Linked DNA regions of Homo sapiens: regions 2, 3 and 4 are each linked to region 1. Evidence: fine-mapped expression QTL. A gene starts in region 1. Each other region holds a variant in brackets. All regions are shown on one strand. Distances are from middle to middle. Region 1 holds the start of TBC1D9B (TBC1 domain family member 9B). Region 2 has its middle 22 kb from the start of TBC1D9B. Region 3 overlaps TBC1D9B (TBC1 domain family member 9B). Region 4 overlaps TBC1D9B (TBC1 domain family member 9B).

Region 1 (4,215 bases):
CTAGAATGGGAAAAATGTATAGAGACAAAATAGATTGATGGTTGCCAGGGCAAAGCCGGGGGGAAGTGGGGAATGGCAGCTAATGGGTAAGGGGTTTCTTTTGACTTGATAAAAATGTTCTGGAATTAGTGATGATGGATGCCCAGCCTAGTGAATATACTAAAAACCACTACGTTTTGCACTTTAAAAGAGTGAACGTTACGGAATGTGACTTATATCTCAGAAAATCAAAAAGAAGTAAGCTTAGCACGCACATACTAAGTGATCGATAAATGTTTGTTCTTTTTCTTCTTATAAAAAACCATTCTCGAGGAGTGGTCTCCAGGTCAGCAGCATCAACATCACCTAGGAACGAGTTAGCAGTGCAAACACCCTGGGAGGGAGGGGGCAGCAACCTGTGTGGCTGTTTTTTGTTTTGTTTTGTTTTCAGATGGAGTCTTGCTATATTGCCCTGGCCGATTTTGAACTCCTGGCCTCAAGTGATCCTACCACCTCAGCCTCCCAAGTGGCTGGGACTACAGCAGCCTGTTTGAATCAGCCTTCCAGGTGATCCTAATGTATACCCAATTTGAGAACCACTGGGATTAAGGAACAAGACGACTCTTTACCTCCTCTCAGGGTGTTAAAAAGTGCAGTTCTTCCAAATTCTTTCCCTCTAGAGAGCACAATGACAATATTAGTTCAGACTTCCAAGGTGTTGAAGAAAGCCCGCCTCTGCATCTTGAAAGCTGATTCCTATATCCAGCAACATTGAAGAAGACTGCAGATCACTCTGGGTGTCAACTGCATGTACCTACATCCATCGCACCAAGATTCTTGAGTGCCAATCACAGAAACCCACCTGGAAGTCAGGTCCAGCTCCAAGGATGGTTTAACTGCCCCCTTCCCTTTGCCCTCTAGCCAGACCCTGGTGAGGGTTCCAGCCAGCAGGGTGACCCCACATCCCAGTCGACCCCGGACAGGCCCCAGGCCCGTTGTCCCAGGTGGAGTTGACAGCCCCCTCATGCAGAAGGCTGTGTGTGGACTGGCGCTGCCCCTGCAGGCCAACACTGGGAGACCAGGGACCCGCATTCGCCTGCAGCCAGCCTCACACTTGCGCAGAAGCCGCCACTGGGCCCAGGGCCAGTCCAGACCCCATCCCCAGGGCCGGCCAGCCTCTGTGACCCGTCTGTCAGGGGAGGGGCAGCACTGATTTCCAAGGATGCAGCCCGTATCAGGGCCTCCTGGCACCTGCCCTGCGCTGGAAGATTCTTCTAGTCTCCCGGCCCCAGTGTCAGAATTCTGAGAACTGGCCGGGCGCGATGGTTCACTCCTGTAATCCCAGGACTTGGGAGGCCAATGTAGGCGGATCACCCGAGGTCAGGAGTTCGAGACCAGCCTGGCCAACATGGTGAAACCCCGTCTCTACTAAAAATACAAAAAAATTAGCCGGGCGTGTTGGCGGGAGCCTGTAATCCCAGCTAAAGAGGCTGGGGCAGGAGAATCACTTGAACCCGGGAGGCAGAGGTTGCAGTGAGCTGAGATTGCGCCACTGCACTCCAGCCTGGGCGACACAGCAAGACTCTGTCGAAAAAAAAAAAAGAAAAGAAAGCTGAGAATTAGGAGGAACTGCAAACCCTTTCCAGGCGCCCTTTGCAGTGCTAACACGCCCCGGGTTGCACGCGCAACCAGCCAAAAGCCGCCAAACTCTGCTTCTTGACATCCTTCTCTCACACTGCACAGCTTTCAAAACGCCAGAAGCCCTGCTCTGCACAGCGGCTCCCCTGTCTGCGGACTGGGCCGTTCCGTTCTGGACCCAGGCCGGAGGCCGTGGGCTGCACCGCTCCAGGAGGCCAGGCTGGCGCGCGCCCGAGGCCGGGGCTGAGGGGGCGGCGCGGAACTCGGGCCGCGTGCGGGAGCGCCACACGCCCGCCAGGGGGCGCCGCCCGCCCGGCCCCGCCCCGCCCCGGCCCGCTCCGCACGCTCCGCTCCGCACGCTCCGCTCCGGGACGCCGACGGCGGCGGGCGCTTCCGTCTCGCGGGCCTCGGCCCGGTGCGAGCGGCTCCGCGATGTGGCTGAGCCCGGAGGAGGTGCTGGTGGCCAATGCGCTGTGGGTGACGGAGCGGGCCAACCCCTTCTTCGTGCTGCAGCGACGCCGGGGCCACGGCAGGGGCGGCGGCCTTACGGGTGAGAGGCGCGCGGGCGGCCGGGCCTGTGGGCGCCGCGGCTGGGCTGGCGGCGGGGCTGGCGGCGGGCGGCGGGCGGGTCCGGTTCCGGCCCGGCCTCGGCGCGTCGCGGCGGACACGCACGCCAGCGCGCGGCGGGGCGGGGGCGCGAGGCCAGGACCCGGGAGCCGGGCGCGGAGGGGCCGGGGCGGGGAGGCGAGGGGCTGGCGGGAGGCGAATGCGCCCTCGGCGGGCTCTCCTCAGGTCGGCTTGGGGCGGCCAAGTGGAGACCGGCGGCGGCTTCTGCCCGGATTCGGCGCCCGCGAGCCCCGGGGGCCGTGCAGCTTCCCGGGATCTCACCGCCGAAAGTTGGCGAGACCGCCCTGTCCTCATCCTCCACCTCAGTTTCCCCAGGTGCCTCTAAGGGGCCAGGTGACGCCAGCGCACGTTTTCTTTTGCCCTCTTCTTCGTGCCCATCTCACCAAAGTATCGCCCTTTTAGCAAGATCAGAGGTCCCTGGAGCTGGCCGCACCCCCATTCCCCCAGCTTCTCCTCCCCCACCTTTCCTGCTCCTGGCTGCTCTCAGAGCTGCGCACCCAAGGCTGTGGGTAGCGGCACAGGGTGTTCCTGCAAGCTCGCCAAGGTGGCCCTTTGTGGGCCCGGGTGCCACCATCACACAGGATGAAGCTGGACAGGCACCCTTGGAGTCGTGCGGCCTGTGGGATCCAGGGGAGGCCCACAGGCCACTCCCTCCGCAGGTGGTGTCCGGGGCCCCTCATGCTCCAGGGCCTGCGCCCAGCACTGCAGGAGCCCGGCTGGCTCGGGCTCAGTGCCTGTGCTCTTCGGGGCACCGACTGTTGCCCTACAGGATTGCGGTCCCAGTGTTGCCAGGTCGTCCAGTTTATCAAGAGCATTTTCTGTGAATCATCCTGATTTTCAGTGTGAGCAGCTAATAGCCAGATGCAGACGGAGGCTTCTCCTGGGCCACGTTTCTTCATGTGGAAGAGACTGTTCTGTTCCCAGAAACACTCAGTGTTCCCTTCAGCTTCGGGTTCCCTCCCAGTGGGCTTCAAGGATCTCGGGCTCCTGTTCTGGACCCGCCTCCTAGATCCAGCTGTTCAGTCGGCAGCCCCTGTGGCTAACCTCGAAGCTACTGCAAGCCCGATGAAGAAAGCGAGGGACCGGCACCTTTTCTTCCGCCAGCGCGCCAGGGTGTCATCAGCGCGCCAGTGTGTCATATTCGCTGGTGTACTTGAAACACTTGTGCTGTGCTCGGCAGGCTTATGTGGGTCGTCTCATTGAACGGGCGGGTGCAGGTGCAGCCCGGTCTCTGTACACCTCCTTCCTGCGGGCTCTTCTCCTTTCCACCTCACTCTCCGTGTCCCCTGGGACCGAGCTCCCAGGGTCCCCCCAAGGGAACCCTTCTTTGAACCCTCTCCCAATCTCTCCCCACTGCTAGGTTTGGTGTGTCCTGCTGTGCCCTCTGACAGGGCCTTCCCTGTGCCATCATGGGCATCGTGGCCTCCTGAGTACTGTCCTCCCTGAAGAGGAGCAGACAGGGATGTGGTTTTATCCAAGCCATCTATTAAAAACATGCCAACCTAGACTTTTCATTAAAGAATCTGAATAGCTAGCTTGGCCAACATGGCAAAACCCCGTCTCTACTAAAAATATAAAATTTATCCAGGCATGGTGGCACGCGCCTGTTATCCCAGCTACTCGGGAGGCTGAGGCACGAGAATCGCTTGAACCCAGGAGGTCAAGGTTGCAGTGAGCCGAGATGGCGCCATTGCACTCCACCTTGGGCGACAGAGCGAGACTATCTCAAAAAAGTATTAATGGACTATGAAACAAAAGTGTTAAAGTTGAATAACAGCAATAAAAATTGTTCTGACATCAACAGGAAAAATGGTAACAAAATATTTTCAGATCATGCCAAAAGCAGCACTTCGTTAAAAGGAAGAAAAAATTTCAAGTAAAAACAATAAACAGGTTTTTAGATTGCTCGATAATTCAATTAGTGAATCAAACAATGATAAAAGCTATATATTTCCTGCTGATTTGTCAGGA
Region 2 (4,000 bases), 22 kb before region 1:
GTACTGTAGTTTTGTTGTTTGTTTGTTTTAAGACAGAGTCTGGCTCTGTCGCCCAGGCTGGAGTGCAGTGGCACCATCTCAGCTCACTGCAACCTCCGCCTCCCAGGTTCAAGCAATTCTCCTGCCTCAGCCTCCCGAGTAGCTGGGATTGGGATTACAGGCAGGCACCACCACGCCCGGCTAATTTTTTCTATTTTAGTAGAGACATAGTTTCACTATTTTGGCCAGGCTGGTCCCGAACTCCTGACCTCAGGTGATCCGCCCACCTCGGCCCCCCAAAGTGCTGGGATTACAGGCATGAGCCACTGCGCCTGGCCTGTACTGTAGTTTAAACAGTGATTCATTAAAATCTGTTACTGCCAACAAAAAAGAAAAAAAACAAAAAACAAAAAAGCTACACTTAAAGCACACACACAAAAGAACACAGAAAATGTGCAGAACTGTAATATGTTTTCACAGCTGATTAAAAACAAATACTACCATTGTCCCTAGACTCCCCTTTGATACAATAGGTAAACAAAATGGACTTTGTGTGATTCATTTTGACATTTCTGGCACCCCACACTGTATCGCCATCAGTGTTACAGTCCCAGTTCAGATGTGCGGTACTTCAGGCGGGAAACACTGTCACAGGAATCCAGCTTTGCGTGGACGTCATCAAAATGCCAATCAGTCATGCGGTCACCATGTTTTTATCTTAATAGGTACAAAAAAAGCATTTGCTAAAATTCAACACCTATTCTTGATTTTTTTTTTTTTTTTTTTTTTTTTGAGACAGAGGTTTGGTCTGCAGCCCAGGCTGGAGAGCAGTGGTGCAATCTCAGCTCACTGCAACCTCTGCCTCCTGGGTTCTCATGCCTCAGCCTCCCCAGTAGCTGGAACTACAGTCATGCATCACCACGCCCAGCTACTTTTTTTTGTAATTTTAGTAGAGACCGGGTTTTGTTATGTTTACTGGGCTGGTCTTGAACTCCTGGCCTCAAGTGATCCACCCACCTTGGCCTCCCAAAGTGCTGGGATTACAGGCATGAGCCACCACGCCCAGCCTCCATTCTTGATTTTAAAAGAAAAGAACTTTTAGCAAACTAGGAAAAACAGAGTGCTTCCTTAATCTAATAATGGATATTTTCAAAACTACAGCAAACATTATACTTATCAGTGAAATATTAAAAACTTTTTCCCTAAGATTGTAAATAAGGTTATCTGCTGTCACTGTCTCTTTCAACATTATATTGGCAGTGTTAGCCATTACCATATGGCAAGAAAAAGAAATAAAAGGTGTAAGGATTAGAAAGGAAGAATGAAACTGTCACTCTTCACAGAGAAAACGATTACATGTAGAAAATTCAATATATTCTACAAATCAGCTCTTAAAATGAGTAAGTAAATTTAACAGGATCAATTATATTTCTATAGACTAACAATAAGCAATTTAAAATGAAATTTTTGGCCGGGTGCAGTGGCTCATGCCTGTAATCCTAGCACTCTGGGAGGCCAAGGCGGGCAGATCACGAGGTCAGGAGTTCGAGATCAGCCTGACCAACGTGGTGAAACCCCATCTCTACTAAAAATACAAAAATTAGCCGGGTGTGGTGGCAGATGCCTGTAATCCCAGCTACTCGGGAGGCTGAGGCAGGAGAATCGCTTGAACCCGGGGGGCAGAGGTCGCAGTGAGCCAAGATCACGCCATTGCACTCTAGCCTGGGCGACAAGAGTAAGACTCCATCTCAAAAAATAAATAAAAGATAAATAAATAAAATGAAATTTTCAAAAAAGATAACATTTACAAAAGCATCAAAGAAACATCATACTGAGGAATATATGTAAGAGAAGATACGCAAGGCTTTTATACAGAGAACAATTATGTGTTATCGAGAGAAATTAAAGATGACCTAAGTGAATATAACAGGCTGAAATGAGTGACACGATACTATGGAGGTGTTAGCTCTCCCCAAAGTGACTTATAGACTTACTGTGATTTCGGTCACACCCCAGTGGGTGGGTGTGGGTGTGTGTATTGAAACTGGACCAATTGATCCTAGAATTTTTTTTTTTTGAGACACAGTCTCACTCTGTCACCCAGGCTGGAGTGCAGTGGCACAATCATGGCTCACTGCAGCCTTGACCTCCCAGGCTCAAGTGATCCTCCCACCTCAGCCTCCTGAATAGCTGGGACTACAGGCATGCACCCCCATGCCCAGCTAATTTTTGTATTTTTTGTAGAGATGGGATTTTGCCATGTTGCCCAGGCTGGTCTCAAACTCCTGGGCTCAAGCAGTCCTCCCACCTTGGCCTCCTAAAGTGCTGAGATTACAGGTGTGAGCCACCACGCCCAGCCTGAT[C/G]CTAGAATTTACGTGGAAATGGAAAGAGCTAAGAATAACAAGAACATTTTGAAGAATAATAAAGCAAAAGGACTTAGATACTGGAAATCAAGACTTTTGACAAAGCCACAGTAATTAAGACAGTAAGGTATCGATGCAAGGATGGACAGACAGCAGAACAAAATAGAGTTCTGAAACAGCCGTGCATGTACAGACACTTGGCTCATGACAGAGGTGGCACTGCACAAGCCGTGGGGTAAGAATGGTCTTTTCAAGATGGTGCTGGCTCCACTGAATATTTATAAAGAAAGAAATGAATCTTAATTCCTACTTCACACTATACTGAAAAATTGACTTGAAATGGATGATAGACCTAAATGCAAAAGGTAAAACCATGAAGCTTCTAAAAAATAAGATAAAATGTCATCAAAACCTTCAGATAGGCAAAGACTTCTTCAACTGGACTGAAAAAGCCCTAACCATAAAATAAAAGTTAGATAATTTGTTCCACACTAAAATTAAGAAATTTTGCTCATCAAAATACAGTTTTGGATGGCCAGGTGCGGTGGCTCACGCCTGTAATCCCAGCACTTTGGGAGGCCGAGGCAGGGGGATCACGAGATCAGGAGATTGAGACCATCCTGGCTAACACGGTTGAAACCCCGTCTCTACTAAAAATACAAAAAATTAGCCAGGCGTGGTGGTGGGCGCCTGTAGTCCCAGCTACTCGGGAGGCTGAGGCAGGAGAATGGCATGAACCCAGGAGGCGGGGCTTGCAGTGAGCCGAGATCGCACCACTGCACTCCAGCCTGGGTGATAGAGCGAGACTCCGTCTCAAAAAAAAAAAAAAACAACAACAATTAAAAAAATACAGTTTTGGAAGAAGGTACCTGCAATGCTTAACTCACAAAGGACTCACAGTCACAATAAAGGAGAAGAAGACTGACAACCTGATGGGAAAATGAGCAAAAGAAACAAAGAGACATTTCAGAGCGAACCAGATACACAAACAGCCTGCAAATGTATGAAAAGTGTTCATCCTTTTTGGTCATTTGGGGAATGGACGTTAAAACATAGTGAAATGCCGTGTATACACCTGCTGGAATGCTAAAATGAAAAAAAAAAACAAAATATCCATTATTGGCACAGAAAGAGAGCCACTGGAATTCTCATTTACTGGTGGGAGTCAAAGTTGGCACAGCCACTTTGGAACATGGCCAGTGTCTGCTGACGCTGAAAATATGCACACCTAAGACCCAGCAATCCCACTCCCAGGCATCATCCGAGGGAAAGGCATGTCCATGTGTACAAAAGATAACTCACAGAAACAAGTGTCCCTAACAGCAAGATTCAGAGAGCCTCCAGAGGAAACAATGCAAATGCCTGTCCGTAAAGATTAGACCAATCAATTGTGTGGTGGCCAGACAGTGGAACATGATGCGGCGGTGAAAAGGAAGGAACTGTTGCTATATTCCCTGAGGCGGATGGATGTTGCAACATAAATGTCAGACATTTGTGTGTCAGACAGAGTCTAGACACAAAAGAATATATTCCCTGTTTCCATTTATATAAAATTAAAAATAGACAAAGCTAGGCCGGGCATGGTGGCTCACACTTGTAATCCCAGCACTTTGGGAAGCCAAGGCGGGTGGATCATGAGGTCAGGAGATCGAGACCAT
Region 3 (4,215 bases), 23 kb after region 1:
AGGCCCCACACTTCCTGAAAGCTGAGTAAGCACCACTCACGGCCCCTCCCAGGCACTCGGCTTCATGCATCCAAACACATTTTATTGCATTCCTGTTAGGTGCCAGCTGCTATTCTAGGCCCCAGGAGTAGAACAGTGAACACATCGGACAGAGTGCCTGTTCACTTAGAGCTGTATTCCAGTGAGGGAGGCAGTAAGCAAATAAACATACAATATGTCAGGCAGTGATAAGGGCTGTGGGTAGAAATAAAGCAGGATGAGGGGATCAGGAGTGCCAGGGGAAAGAAGGGGGCTCCATTTTCTCTCTGTTGCTCATGGGCAACCTCTCTGATCAGGCAGCACTGGAGGAGAAACTCGAAAGAAGCAGGGGAACTAGCCATAGCCTGTCTGGGGCAGGGTGTTGGAGGCAGAGAGCACAGCAAGCTGGGAGACAGGATTGGATGTGGCACGGGCTTCTGGGACCAGGGCTTAGGAGACTGACCAGGTGTAGGAGGTGAGACCAGAGAGGTGGCAGAAGGCCAAGTCACCGAAAGCCCGTAGGCCCTGTGAGTGCTGCAGCTTTGACTTCAGGTGAGAGGGGAAGCCAGTGAAGAGTCATGACCAGAGGAGGGCACGACCTGTTTACGTGTTAATGGGGTTACTGTGGCCGTCCATGTTGACAGTGGATTAGAGGTGCCCCGTCTAGTACAGCAGCCACGTGTGGCCATGGAGCACTGGAAATCCAGCGGGTGCCAATGGAAATGTGCTGTGAGTGTTCAGATCACTGTACACGGGTTTTGGAGACTTCGTATGAAAAGAAAAACGTAAAATACCTCCATCTTTTTTTTTTTGGGGGGGGGACAGAGTCTTGCTCTGTCACCTAGGCTGGAGTGCAGTGGGGCAGTCTTGGCTCACTGCATCCTCTGCCTCCCAGGTTCAAGTGATTCTCCTGCCTCAGCCTCCCGAGTAGCTGGGATTACAGGCGTCCACCACCACGCCCGGCTTATTTTGTATTTTTAGTAGAGACGGGTTTTTGCCATGTTGGCCAGTCTGGTCTTGAACTCCTGACCTCAGGCGATCCACCTGCCTCAGCCTCCCAAAGTGCTGGGATTACAGGGGTGAGCCACCGTGCCTGGCCACTCCATCATTTTTTAATTGATTCCTGTTGAAATGCGAGTATTTTGGATATATTGGATTAAGTCAAATATATTGTTAAAATTAATCTCAATAATTTACTTTAGGACTTTACAATGTGGCTACTAGAAAATTTACAATTACATTTGTGGCTCTCATCATCTCTCTTGGGCAGTGCTGGACTAGAGAGTGGCAAGAATAGAAGCAAGGAGGCCGGCTGGAGCCCATCACAGAAGCAGGGGCACAAGATGATGGAGTCGAGCATCAAGGGTAGGAACAGTGTAGGTGTAAGAAGGGGTCAGATTCAGGAGACGCTATTGTGATAAAATACACATAACAACATTTACCATTAAGTACATTGACATTGCTATGCCATCACCACCATCCATCCACAGAACTTTTTCAGTTTTGCAAAACTGAAACTCTGAACCCATTAAACAGTAACTCCTCAGCCCCCACTCCCCCAGCCCCTGGCAAGCACCATTCTACCTTTTTGACTTGAATTGAACTATTCTAGGTAATGCACATAAGTGGAAGCATATAGTATTTTCCCTTTTGTGCCTGGCTTATTTCATTCAGCGTGATGTCCTCCAGGTTCATCCCTGTTGTAGCGTGCTCAAGATTTCTTTTTTAAGGCTGAATCATATGCCATTGTATGGATAAGCCACGTTTTGTTCACTGTTGAAACTTGGACTGCTTCCACCTCATGGCTATTATGAGTAACACTGCTGTGAACATGGGTGTACAGATGTCTGTTTGAATCTTTACTTTCAGTTCTTTTGGGGACATACCCTGGAGTGGAATTGCTGGATTGTATAGCAGTTCTATTTTTAATATTTCAAGGAACCTCCGTGCTATGCTCTATCCACCAACTGTGCACCACAGTTGGAGGCCAGACCACCAACTGTGGCATGACTCTGTGCAGACACAGAGCCAGTAGCTGTGCTGAGGCAATGGCGGGAAGGAAGAGGGGCTCTGATAGTCCTAAGAGCCAAGGAATCCAGAAGTCACCAGAATACCCCTCACAAGAGACTACTCAGCAAATGGAAACCTCAACAAGTGAATCTGAGAGACAGCCAGTGAAATTGGGAGCCGATTTCTCAGGCTCCAGTTTATAGAGGAGGCTTTTTTTT[A/TA]TTAATGGAAGCACAAAATCCTGCTTTATTTCTACCCACAGCCTTATCGCTGCCTGACGTATTATACGGCTGAGGAAAGATCAAGAATGTGAGGGAAACCCATGCCCTTAACAAAAACTTCTCTTCTGAAAGACAAGAGCTCACCCCAAGAAAAAAAGGACTGGGATTGAACAGAGCAGGAACACTTGGGGTAAAGGAGAAAAGCTTTAGATACAAGAAAGAGGTGGCCAATCCCAGAAAGTACAGGAGCAAGGACTACACAGACCGACCACAGCAGGGGAAAGGCCTCTCCAGCTGTGGAGTTCAGAAAGCTACTCTGACCCACAACTGCCCGTACGTAGAACATCCTGCTGAAAGAACAGGAAAAGATGCTGATCACACCCTGTACAAAGATATTGCGGGGAGAAAGTGAACCAGATAACCTCCCACAGATAATGAAAGCACACCAGAAAAACATTCCTCCAGGCAGATGAAAACTGTGTCCTGATGTTTCTGAGTGATCTCAAAGGAATTAGAAAAACGACAGAAACTACTAAAGAATGGTATAAATTAAAAATGTTTAAAAAGCTCAGGTTAAAAGTGACTAGTCAACAGAAAAATATGAAGAGAGTTGACAGGACTCAGGAGGAAATAAGAAAAAAAAAACCAGATATTTCTGAAATGAAAATCAGGAACACAAGAATGAAAATACATTAAGGTAAATAAGGAAGAGATAGGAGAAAAATGGAGTCAGAGGAGACTCAAACAAATAGAGAAGAAGTTGTCCAGAGAAGGGATAAAGAAGTTAGGCAAAGAAGATCAAACTTACGTATAATCGTAGTGCCATCCCACACCCTTCCCAGAAAAAAGCAGTGGAATAACAGATAATAGAAACTGTGATTCAGGAAAACTGATAAAATAAGCTTGAACTTGTATAGTGGAAGGACACATTGAATGTCTAGAAAAATCAACACAAAATAGTCGATATTGACATAAAATCTCATAAAACTGTTCAATTTTAAAGATTAAAAAATTATTCCAGGCTGGGCACAGTGGCTCACACCTGTAATCCCAGCACTTTGGGAGGCTGAAGCAGGCAGATCACTTGAGGCCAGAAGTTCAAAACCAGCCTGGCCAACATGGTGAAACTCTGTCTCTACTAAAAATACAAAACTAAGCTAGGTATAGTGGCACATGCCTGGAATCACAGCTACTTGGGAGGCTGAGGCACAAGAATCACTTGAACCCAGGAGGTGGGAGAAGGAGGTTGCAATGGGCCACGATCCTGAGAGATTCCTCCTCAAGAGAGGTATCAGACTTTGTGATACAGTAACAACATTTTAGAGTAACTTTTTGTTGGGGGTTGGGGAGGGTGTCTCCTGGAGTGCAGTGGCACAATCTCGGCTCACTGCAACCTCTGCCTCCCAGGTTCAAGCAGTCTTGTGCCTCAGGCCCGTGAGTAGCTGGGACTACGTGTATGTGCCACCATGCCTGGCTAATTTTTGTATTTTTTGTAGAGATGGGGTTGAGATTTCACCATGTTGGCCAGACTGATCTCGAACTCCTGACCTAGGGTGATCCACCTGCCTCAGCCTCCCAGAGTGCTGAGATTATACAGAGTAACATTTTTAAGATATACAATAAAAGAAGCTGTGACCCAGGGATTTTATACCCAGCCAAACTGACGTTCAGGTATAAAGACCATAGGCTGTAAAGAACATGCAGAGGAGTTCAGGGGCTCTCTCAGCTTCTGTGGAGTCTGCTGGAGAACAGACTCCAGATAACCAAGGAGTGATGGAAGCAGCTTGGGCCTAACGACTGGTGGTAGCATTGATTATATTTAGCTGTGGAATTAAGGTTAGATAGTAGGAATAGAGGTGACAGTATATAAATGTTATAATCTCTGATGATGGAGACATAGTACAATCAAAACCTGAGGTTAGGGAGGTATATGAGGCTGGGCTTGATGGCTCATGCCTGTAATCCCAAC
Region 4 (4,215 bases), 44 kb after region 1:
AAACGCCAGGGTGTTTTATGATAGGGCCCTGGTAACTCCATGCCAGAAAACACCCAACTCTTCCTCTCCCTGCTGTCAGCCCGCAGCCGTCTCACATGACAAAGATTAATCTCTTTCCTCCTAACCTGCAGAGGAGAAGGGGACCAGCTCTCCGGACTATCGGCACTACCTTCGAATGTGGGCCAAGGAGAAAGAGGCTCAGAAGGAGACGATTAAGGATCTTCCCAAGATGAACCAGGTAGGCTCCACTGGAGCCCACAGTAGACATTTCTGGAGAGTTCTGACCAAGACTGGGCCCTAACATCACCGCACCTGCACTGCAGCATCTCCTGGTGGGTGGGAAGGCTCCTCCCTGCCTCTAGAGCCCGTTAGTCCTGGTTGCCAGTCAGCGATGATTCCAGAAAGACAAGAGGCCAGTTGCTCCAGGGCCTTGTATAGGGGCATGTTTCCAGATTGAGTGAGTGTCTGTGAACCAGGAGCCAGAGGCTTGTAGGCTACCTTTGACAAGATATGCGTTCCACACCCTGCACCCTCCCAGCCCTGCCCAGGGCTCTGCACACGCAGGCTCACATGCATCCTCCACACCCGCTCTTCATTCACTGGTCTCGCAGATCAGAAGCATGGTGTCTTGCCAAGGGTCTCAAAGCCAGAAAATGGGAGACCCCAGCTCCAAACTGCAAGCGTTGAGCCAAAGGCAAGTCTGGAGCACCAGCCTGACCATGGCCCTCGGGCCAGACCCACGGTCTAGCTGTGCCCAGTAGGGGACCCTGCAATCTGACCACTCCCCCAGCAGGCCTGGAGGGTGGGCACCACGTGCGATGAGGATTCTTCCCATTCTTGGGCCAGGAGGCCTAGACGTGTGGCTTCAGGACCTAGCACCCACCCTCCCCAGCACCCCCCTCCCCAGGATCCCCCTCCCCAGCTGACCCAGGCTGTATTTTCCTCACCATCACCTTCTAAAGAGCTTCATTCAAGGGCTGAGTTGAGGCTGCTTCTGATTAAAACCAAAGGTGATTCTAAAACACAACGAAGTCCTTGTACTGACTGGATTTAGAGTCGTGGTAGAAATCCATCTCCCTGTGCCAACAGAACGGACCTAGAAACAGGGAGGCCCCAGGTCAGACCAGCATGCTCTGAGTGCCAAGAGAAAGGCAGCTGGAGGGGAAAGCCTTTTGAAGAGCTGTGTGGCCTCTCTGAGCCTGTGTCCTGATCTGTGAGATGGGACTGATGAGGCTCATGGAGATGATTAGCAAGACGGCAGCCAACATCCTTAGGCTGGTGCTTGTCATCAGTTTGGCTAATATGGACCCCGTCTGACTGGTCTTTTACCATCTCCCTGTTCTTCTGTTTTTCTCCCTAAAAGGAGCAGTTCATTGAGCTGTGCAAGACGCTTTACAACATGTTCAGTGAAGACCCCATGGAGCAGGACCTGTACCACGCCATCGCCACCGTGGCCAGCCTCCTGCTCCGCATCGGAGAGGTGGGGAAGAAGTTCTCAGCCCGCACAGGCAGGAAGCCCAGGGACTGTGCCACTGAGGAGGACGAGCCACCAGCACCCGAACTGCATCAGGACGCAGCCAGGGAGCTTCAGCCCCCAGCTGCAGGAGACCCCCAAGCCAAAGCAGGCGGAGACACACACCTCGGAA[A/C]AGCCCCACAGGAGAGCCAGGTGGTGGTGGAGGGGGGCAGCGGCGAGGGACAGGGCTCACCCTCCCAGCTGCTGTCTGACGATGAAACCAAAGACGACATGTCCATGTCCTCCTACTCGGTGGTCAGCACGGGCTCCCTGCAATGTGAAGACCTTGCAGACGACACGGTGCTGGTGGGCGGGGAGGCCTGCAGCCCCACAGCGCGCATCGGCGGCACCGTCGACACCGACTGGTGCATCTCCTTTGAGCAGATCCTGGCCTCCATCCTGACGGAGTCCGTGCTGGTGAACTTCTTTGAGAAGAGAGTGGACATTGGACTCAAGATCAAGGACCAAAAGAAAGTGGAGAGACAGTTCAGCACCGCCAGTGACCATGAGCAGCCTGGAGTTTCCGGCTGATGCCTGCAGCTGTGAGGCCTGGCCCAAGGTGTCATCAGTGGGGCTGGCCTCATCTCCTCCTGCCTTTCCTCCCTTATCAGTTTCTCTTTAAAGGTGTGCCCCTCCTGCTCTCCCAGGAGCAGTGAGTTGTGAGTGGAAAGAAGGCTGGTGCAGACCCAGCTGCCTTAGACAGATTCCCTGGGCCTGCATCTCCTGGCGCCGGCTGCTTCTGGGCCCAGGAAGAGGCTGTGGCTCCCACCTTCCTTACACCTGGTGGGAGCCCGCCTCGCACCAGCTGCACCTGCCTAGCATTACAGGCTCTCAGATCTGCCCTTGCTTGCCTCATACCTCTGTGCTCCACACTGCGGCCAGGCCAGCTGAGTCCCTCCATCCGTGGATGCTTTCCTGCAGCTATGTGGTATGGGGGTCATTCCTGCCTCTTGGCACCAGGTTGGGGGGCATGTGCTTGTTGGGCACCAAAGTGATGGAACCCTCAGGTGCTCTCCGGGAGCCTGAACCTCCTGACTGAGGAACATGGGCAGAACATGTTTATTGCACAGAGTGGGCGCTGCGCACAGGCGTGGCTGTACACGTGCTCTCAGCTCATCATCCTTTCCAGTAACTTTAAAAAAACATCCCTCAGGTCCTGATATATTTCCTTGGATTCATTTCACTTGGCTAGAAATTACACTGTGCTCAATGCCTTAATAAATCCCTGAAAGAAATAAAAACCACTGTGTGCAATGCCTTGCTGTGGCCCCCAACCACTGCTTAGGCCTCCCAACTTCTCCCCAGGCCAAGTATGGGGCCCTGGCTGTGTTCTGGAAGTTCAAGACACTTAGTCCTCCACAGTGGGTGGAAGAGTGCAAGGTCTGCCAGGTCAGATGGAGACGCAGAACCTGCTGGTGCAAGCTGGGCAGGTCCTGACCAACCTGCATCAGGGGATGCCCTGAGCTCCACAGGTCTTCATGGGCAGGGGTTGTGGGTCCTGGTGAAGGAAGTGCATCCTCAGGCCTGGGCTGTAGCAAGCTGTCTGCCCTTGGGTTCAAGAACCAGACTGTGGAGCCAAAGGTGACCGCAGGGGGCCCCAGGGCTGGAGCCACAAGGATACCCTCACTTTGCATGAGGAGCTGAAACTGACCAGTGTCCAGTGTTAGCCCCCACATGGGGCTGCTCTTGCTTCTACTAAAAGATACAGCAGTTACCCCCTTATCCACAGGGGATACAGTGGATATCTAAAACCAGACCCCCAGTGGATGTCTAAAACCACAGATAATAACAAACCTTATACATACTGTTTTTTCCTATGCATACATACCTGTGATTAAGTTTATGAATTAGGCACCTTAAGAGATTGACAACAATAACTAATAATAAAATGTAACGGTTATACTGTAATGAAAGTTGTAAATGTGGTCTGTCTCACAATATCTTCTTGTACTGTACTCATCTCTTTTCCAGGTGGCTGTTGACTCTGGGTAACTAAAGCTGCAGAAGGTGAAACTCAGGTACTATTGTATATCTCTGTGGCTGCTGTTTTTGTTTTAATTAAGTAGCTTTGTTTTTTTGTTTTTTTGTTTTTTTGTTTTTTGAGACCAAGTCTTGCTCTGTTGCCCAGCATGGAGTGCAGTGGCGTGATCTCAGCTCACTGCAACCTCTGCCTCCTGGGTTCAAGCAATTCTTCTGCCTCAGCCTCCCAAGCAGCTGGGACTACAGGCGTGCACCACCACGCCCAGCTAATTTTTCTATTTTTACTAGAGATGGGGTTTCACCATATTGGCCAGGCTGGTCTCAAACTCCTGACCTCGTGATCCACCCGCCTCGGCCTCCCAACATGCTGGGATTACAGGCGTGAGCCACCATGCCCGGTCTGCTTGTTTGTTTGTTTTAGAGACAGACTGGAGTGCTGTGGCATGACCATAGCTCATGGCAGCCTCAAACTCTTGGCCTGAAGTAATCCTCCTGCCCCAGCCTCCCTAGTAGCTGGGACTACAGGCATGAACCAGCATGCCTGGCTTCAATTTCCTTTCTAGTATTTACACAAAGTACCATAAAATAATTTCAAATGATTTATACCAAAAAGACCATTGTTGGCCTTAATATAATTAAGATATAATAACCCCACATATTTGGCAATTTTAAGTCTTACACTGATTATATTCAATTAGATTTGAATAACTTGGAATTTGGAT

Evidence for each region. PIP is the estimated chance that this variant, and not a neighbour inherited with it, causes the effect.
Region 2: its variant is the best candidate, but not a certain one, in a credible set for the expression of TBC1D9B in monocytes (Quach 2016, PIP 0.51).
Region 3: its variant is the best candidate, but not a certain one, in a credible set for the expression of TBC1D9B in whole blood (TOPMed, PIP 0.62).
Region 4: its variant is the best candidate, but not a certain one, in a credible set for the expression of TBC1D9B in T cells (TOPMed, PIP 0.86).

What each region holds. Positions count from the first base shown.
Region 1 is chr5:179,905,656-179,909,870 of GRCh38, reverse strand. TBC1D9B (TBC1 domain family member 9B) reads left to right here and starts at 1,974. Exons shown (of 21, transcript NM_015043.4): 1 at 1,974-2,167. The coding sequence starts at 2,050. RefSeq lists silencers at 1,823-1,982, 2,053-2,112, 2,123-2,262, 2,313-2,362 and an enhancer at 2,243-3,020.
Region 2 is chr5:179,927,804-179,931,803 of GRCh38, reverse strand. It overlaps a transcript of RNF130 not described here. Among named protein-coding and RNA genes, the nearest start is that of TBC1D9B, 22 kb to the right of the region's middle. The variant C/G (reference allele first, on the strand shown) is at 2,343.
Region 3 is chr5:179,882,210-179,886,424 of GRCh38, reverse strand. All of the region lies in intron 7 of TBC1D9B (TBC1 domain family member 9B), which reads left to right. Among named protein-coding and RNA genes, the nearest start is that of TBC1D9B, 24 kb to the left of the region's middle. The variant A/TA (reference allele first, on the strand shown) is at 2,247.
Region 4 is chr5:179,861,277-179,865,491 of GRCh38, reverse strand. TBC1D9B (TBC1 domain family member 9B) reads left to right here. Exons shown (of 21, transcript NM_015043.4): 20 at 132-238; 21 at 1,364-3,421. The coding sequence ends at 2,044. MRNIP-DT (MRNIP divergent transcript) reads right to left here. Exons shown (of 2, transcript NR_134283.1): 2 at 4,209-4,215. Among named protein-coding and RNA genes, the nearest start is that of MRNIP-DT, 4.4 kb to the right of the region's middle. The variant A/C (reference allele first, on the strand shown) is at 1,647.